2 separate regions of the Homo sapiens genome follow, and region 2 is linked to region 1. Evidence: fine-mapped expression QTL. A gene starts in region 1. The other region holds a variant in brackets. All regions are shown on one strand. Distances are between the middles of the regions.

Region 1 (2,903 bases):
AAGGAATAACAGGGTTCCTAGAAGGAGAGAGAAGTTGGAAAAGAGCCGGGTATCTTCATCACTCCCCGCTCCGATTCTTGCTCCTTCAAGGGCCAACAAAACTAACCCACCTCTCCCTGCTCTAAAGTCTAAACCAATAAAACAAGTTGGAAACTGCTGTCCAATCTTTCCAGGCAGCAGGAGTCCTGAAGCCCCCGCCCCCATCCTCCCGGATCTGGGTAGAATCACAGTCAGAGCATGTCAGCGCTGGAGCGGCCTTTGAAATGCGGAGTCCAACTCAGTTCTGCAGAGCCGGGGCGGCGAGGCCCACGGCGGGGAGTGCCCGGGGAGTCCCGACTGGAGCCCAGGGCAGCGGACGGAGAGCTGGGGGCGCCGGGGCCCAGACGCGAGCGGGGGCGGACTCACGCTCTTGTCGATGTCCAGCTTGAGTTTCTTCTGCGAGATGCTCTTCTGGACCCTCTTGCTGAAGGAGGCGTTGCCCGCGGGCCGGACGCAGCGCTCGCCGTCCTCGATGAGGCAGCAGCTCTGGCCGTAGCCCGGGGCGGCGGCAGCTGGGGCGGCGGGGGGCCCTTCGCGGCTGTCCTCCTCCGTGCTGAAGCCGTTCATCTCCCCGCCCCGGGCCGGTCCCTCTGGGGGAGGGTCCCCGGTAGGCCACTCCGCGGCCGCGCTTGCCGCGGGGCAGGTCGCTGAGACCCCCGCAGCCGAGGGTCCCAGAGTCCGTCTCCAGCCCGGGCGCTGCCCTGCCCCGCGTCCGAGAGGCCCGGCTCCCTCGGCCCCCGGCCCTCCGCCTCCGGAAGCCCCCTTCCTCCCGGCTCGAGGCCCCGGGGTCGGCTCCCGCGGCTCGCAGGGCCCCGCCGGGGGTCACCCGGAGGAGCCTTCTGCCGGGGGCCCAGAACCGTAACCCTGCAGCGGGGGTGTCCGGGAGGGCGTCCCAGGAAACAGCCGCTCCCCAAGGACTCCGGGCCTGGGTTGCCAGGGGGTTTCGAAGGCCCCTGCCGGCTCCCGCCTTCTTTCGGCAGCGGGGCAAACTCGCTGCCGGGCAGCTCCCCCGGGGTGGCGCGGCCTCCTCGCGCGGGGCCCGGCCTCGAACCCGCGGCACCCGGGCCCCGCGGCTCGTCCGGCCCACTCCACCCCTGCAGCCACTCGGCTGCGCCCCGAGTCCCGCGGCAGCCCCTGGGCCGCCCGGCCGCCGCCCGCCGAACGCTCCGCACCACAACAGTTCGCTCCCCCCGCCCTTCGCGGGACAGCGGAAGTCCCGCCTTCACGCGACCATTGGTCTCATTTGCTCTCTGGGCGGGGCTGCCGCCGCCGCTGGCGCGTCCCATTGGGCGTCGCCGCCGCCAGTCTCCGGCGCCAGGCTACTTCCTGGACTCTGCTGGGATGGGTTCAAAGTAGAGAAAGTGGAAGAGGAAAGAGTTACCCCAGCGAGAACCGGGAACCGGGCTGCAGACTCTCCGGCCCGGGGGAGGGATGGTGAGCAGGGGCCTGGCTGGACCGAGGGCCAGACTCCAGGAACAGAGGAACACATTCGGGGACAGACAGTAGAGACGCGGACGGGGACGCTGAGGGACAGACTTGGAGGAGGGGCATATGAGGGGACCTAAAGAGGATAGAGGTGCTATCAGGAGAGGGGCGGACTAATAAAATGAAAGGGCCAGGGCCAGAGGACTCGCGGATCCGTGGGAGGAAGGGTGGGTGAAATAGGACGGAAAGCCAGTCATGGCGGGAAAGACAGAGGGACAACCCCATACAGATACGTGGAAAGACATGCGGAGGAGGTGATGGGGGGATCTTGCAAGGCAGTCGCAATATTGGGGGTAGCCGATACCTTCCAGAGTGTGGAGAGTGGGACTGGCTTGGACGGCGCGGAAAGAAAAGGAGAGGGGGAAAGGAGACCCCGAGGGGTTTGGGCGACCCCTCCACTGGGAAGAATGGGAAGTCCGAATGAGGTCTGGAGGGTGGACTAGGTGAGCCGCGGGCAAGAGAAAGGGCTTCAGGGGAGATGAAGTGAAGGCTGGGAGTGGGGCCCAGGGGCCAATCTCGGAATCTAGATGGGGAAGGGCTGCGGTGTCTTGGGCTCTCCCTGGAGCTCCAAGCTGTAGTTCTATTGCTTTGAGTCCCCGGGTCTACCGGCGAAGCGACTGCGCCCTGCCAAGACCCTGCGCTTGGTTTCGGCGCCCAGGGCACCACCTCCCCTCCAGGAGGGGCCGTAGGATATGCTCTGGTCCAGCACTTCAGTCATGCCACTCTCCAACTGCGCAGCATGGGGACTGATGAGGTCCGAAAGGCGATGGGACCAGCCCAGGGTCGTGTAATTATGTAGGGCTGGGCAGCGTTTTATGGGCAGGGAAGAGGGGAGGCTGTGTTAGGTGATAGGTAAGCAAGTGTTAGTACTAGAGGGCATAGAAGGAGCTTCGGGTTTGTGTCCTGTTGTAAAAGGGAAAGCTACCAGTTTCCATGTTTAGAAGCAGGTGGCTGGTGATCTTAAGTTTTGCTCAGTGGCCATAAATGCATTTGTAGCATCTGAACTGGTAATTTCACACGTGGGACAGCCATCGTCGGAAATAGGCCTATCAGAGATAATATGAAGTACAGTGATGTTCATTATGGAATTATTTATAATAGGAAAAATAAAATAGAACCTCAGAGTTCCAAAAGGGAAGTGGTTAAGTAAACTACCTAAAATCTTCAGAAAGAGATTGTGCAGTTAGCATTTGAGGTAGTTTCAACATCAATGTAAACATTTTCTATAGAGAATAATTCACCATTAATTCTTAAATAAAGAGCTGATGAGGAGTTGGAGAAATGCTTTTTTTATGATAAGTAAAAAAATTCAGGATATGAAATTGCATGGAGGATACGATGTCTGTACATCTATGTTTAAAGAAAAAAGAAAACTATTG
Region 2 (2,903 bases), 24 kb before region 1:
CTGGCACATTTACCTTACCCGGGTACTTCCACTTTTATAAGTGCATTTTCCTCCCCATAATCTGGAAGACAGCCAAGGCAGGAATGATGCTCCCCATGGACAGATGTGGGAAAGGCAAACCCAAGAGAGTTGATGTGACCAGTTCAGGGTCACACAGCCAGTCAAAGGCTGAGCCCGGATTAGAAGGTGCGCCTCAAACCCAGGGTTCTTACGGAAAAGGCACTGGATACCTTCTGTCTATGCAACCATTGGTTAACCTTATAGTCTTGCTAAATCTTCACAAAAGAAACGAAACTAAGAAATCAGCCAATCTCATTTTTAAATGAAGAGTGACTGAAGAGAAAAAATATGCACGTTCTGAAGTGTCTGAAACCAGCCTCCTGATTTAAACCTGATTTGTTAGAAACAAAATTTTTTCAGCTGAGAGAGTTTTTACAGCTGAGCTCTCCCAAACTCATAAAAAACTAGGTTTATATGGGAAATCGTGAAAGACTCTTAACTATAATACACAGCATCTAATGTAAGCAGACGTAGACACTATATAAAGCTCCTACAAATGTTATTAAAACAAACAGAAATGCACATTTATCCCCACAAAATAGACAATGGAAAGCATCGGACTTTAGAGGAGTCCTGAAAGGCTTATGTTCACTGAAATGTGAACACACCCCATAACACTGAGACCTCAAAGGTCTTTACCCACCATCCAAGCATGTCCCTCATTTACAGAAGGAGAAACTGAGGCTCACAAAGGAGAGGGACTTGCCCAGCATCTCAGGGAAGTTGTGCCCTTCTCTTCCCTTTGTTTATTTAATACCTTCTACTTTTAGTGCAGGGAACAGAACAATACAAGGGCCAGGAGTCCCTGCACAAGTTACTGAACATTTCCCAATCTCAGTTTTCTTCACAAGTTACTGAACATTTCTCAACCTCAGTTTTCTTATCTACAAAATGAGAGCAATCATTCCCCCAACATCCTTGGGTCTGTGAGGATGGAAAGAGATAAGGCATGCAAAGCACTTAGCGCGTTGCCCATGGTAGAGCTATTTTTATTATTTTATTTAATCCTCATAACAGTCTTGTGAAGCATTGAGGGTTTCTTTTGGTTTGTTTGCTGGCTTTGGAGACTCAGGGCATACTTCCAACAGATGCAGAAGATTTCAGTGACTTTCTCAAGGACACACACCCAGTGAGCAAATTCCTGCTTCAAAGCCCTTATAGTCCACATCATTAAGGTAACACAGGGGGAAGGCAGCCTGTAGCCGTTGAATTTCTGAAACTGTTTCAGGCAGCACTGTACAGTACAACTATCATGCAAGCTATAAGTGCGAGTCACATAGGTGATTAAACATTTTCTAGTAGCCACAATAAAAATGAGAAGAGAAACAGGTGAAATTATTTTAATAATGTATTTTGTTTAACTTAATATATCCAAAATAGAATTTCAACATGAATCCATCTAAAAATTATTAGTAAGATATTTTACATTCTTTTTTTTTCATACTAAGCCTTCAAAACCAGGGGCTTTTTTTTTTTTTTTTTAAGTTGGAGTTTCATTCTTTTTGCCCAGGCTATAGTGCAGTGGTGCCGTCTCGGCTCACTGAAACCTCCGTCTCTCAGGTTCAAGCGATACTCCTGCCTCAGCCTCC[C/T]GAGTAGCTGGGATTACAGGTGCTGACCAATATACCTGGCTAACTTTTTGTATTTTTAGTAGAGATGCGGTTTCAGCTTGTCAGCTGGCTGGTCTCGAGCTCAAATGATCCTCCCACCTTAGCCTCCCAAAGTGCTGGGATTACAGGCGAGAGCCACCGTGCCTGGTCCAGGCACATAACTATTAAGTGGCAGGGCTGGGCTGCAGACCCAGATGCATTTGACTCGAAAACCTGCCCTTTCAGCCACTCAGTTCCGTGACTCCCAGAGACAGTAGGGGGACTATAGCTGGGCAGTAAGATGTGGAGTGCCTTTTGGAGTGTCCCACCTAGTTCCAGTTCCAAGTCTACTATGAGTCAGGTGACCTTGGTCCAGTCATCTCCTTGTGCCCCAGTTTTCTAATCTCTAAGATGGGCTAACAATATCTTTCCTCCCCGCAACAGAACTCCTGTCACGCTGAAGTGGGAAAAGATCTTTGAAAGTGTTTTGAAGGCTGGGTGCGGTGGCTCACGCCTGTAATCTCAAGACTTTGGGAAGCCAAGGTGGGTGGATCACCTGAGGTTAGGAGTTCGAGACAAGCCTGACCAGCATGGTGAAACCCCATCTCTACGAAAAATACAAAAATTAGCAGGGCGTGTTGGCACATGCCTGTAATCTCAGCTACTTGGGAGGCTGAGGCAGGAGAATTGCTTGAACCTGGGAGGTGGAGGTTGTAGTGAGTTGAGATAGCGCCACTGCACTCCAGCCTGGGCAACAGAGTGAGACTTTGTCTCAAAAAAAAAAAAAGTGTTTTGAAACAGAAAACATATTAGCACAAGAGGCCTGGCCAAGGTCAACAGGGAGGTCTAGACTGGCCCCCCAGGCCTGTACTCAAAACTAGGTGAGTTGGTGAAATGAGCTGCATGGCAATGGGCAGGTTTTTTAACCTTTCTGAGACCCACAGCTCACTTCTGTAAAAGGGAAGGCAGAGGCCAGGCGCAGTGGCTCACACCTGTAATCTCAGCACTTTGGGAGACCGAGGCAGGCAGATCACAAGGTCAGGAGTTGGAGAACAGCCTGGTTAACATGGGGAAACCCCGTCTCTACTAAAAAAATACAAAAATTAGCCGGGCATGGGGGCGTGCACCTGTAATCCCAGCTACTCGAGAAGCTGAGGCAGGAGAATTGCTTGAACCTGGGAGGTGGAGGTTGCAGTAAGCTGAAATCGCGTCACTGCACTCCAGCCTGGGTGACAGAGCAAGACTCTGTCTCAAAAA

What was found.
Region 2: its variant is fine-mapped to the expression of SAP30L in whole blood (TOPMed, PIP above 0.99).

The regions. Positions count from the first base shown.
Region 1 is chr5:154,444,308-154,447,210 of GRCh38, reverse strand. SAP30L (SAP30 like) reads right to left here and starts at 1,214. Exons shown (of 4, transcript NM_024632.6): 1 at 406-1,214. The coding sequence starts at 606. It overlaps SAP30L-AS1 (SAP30L and GALNT10 antisense RNA 1), which reads left to right and starts at 1,389. Exons shown (of 3, transcript NR_037897.1): 1 at 1,389-1,473. RefSeq lists silencers at 571-680, 811-1,340 and enhancers at 917-1,417, 1,471-1,590.
Region 2 is chr5:154,468,436-154,471,338 of GRCh38, reverse strand. No RefSeq gene overlaps it. Among named protein-coding and RNA genes, the nearest start is that of HAND1, 8.3 kb to the left of the region's middle. The variant C/T (reference allele first, on the strand shown) is at 1,650.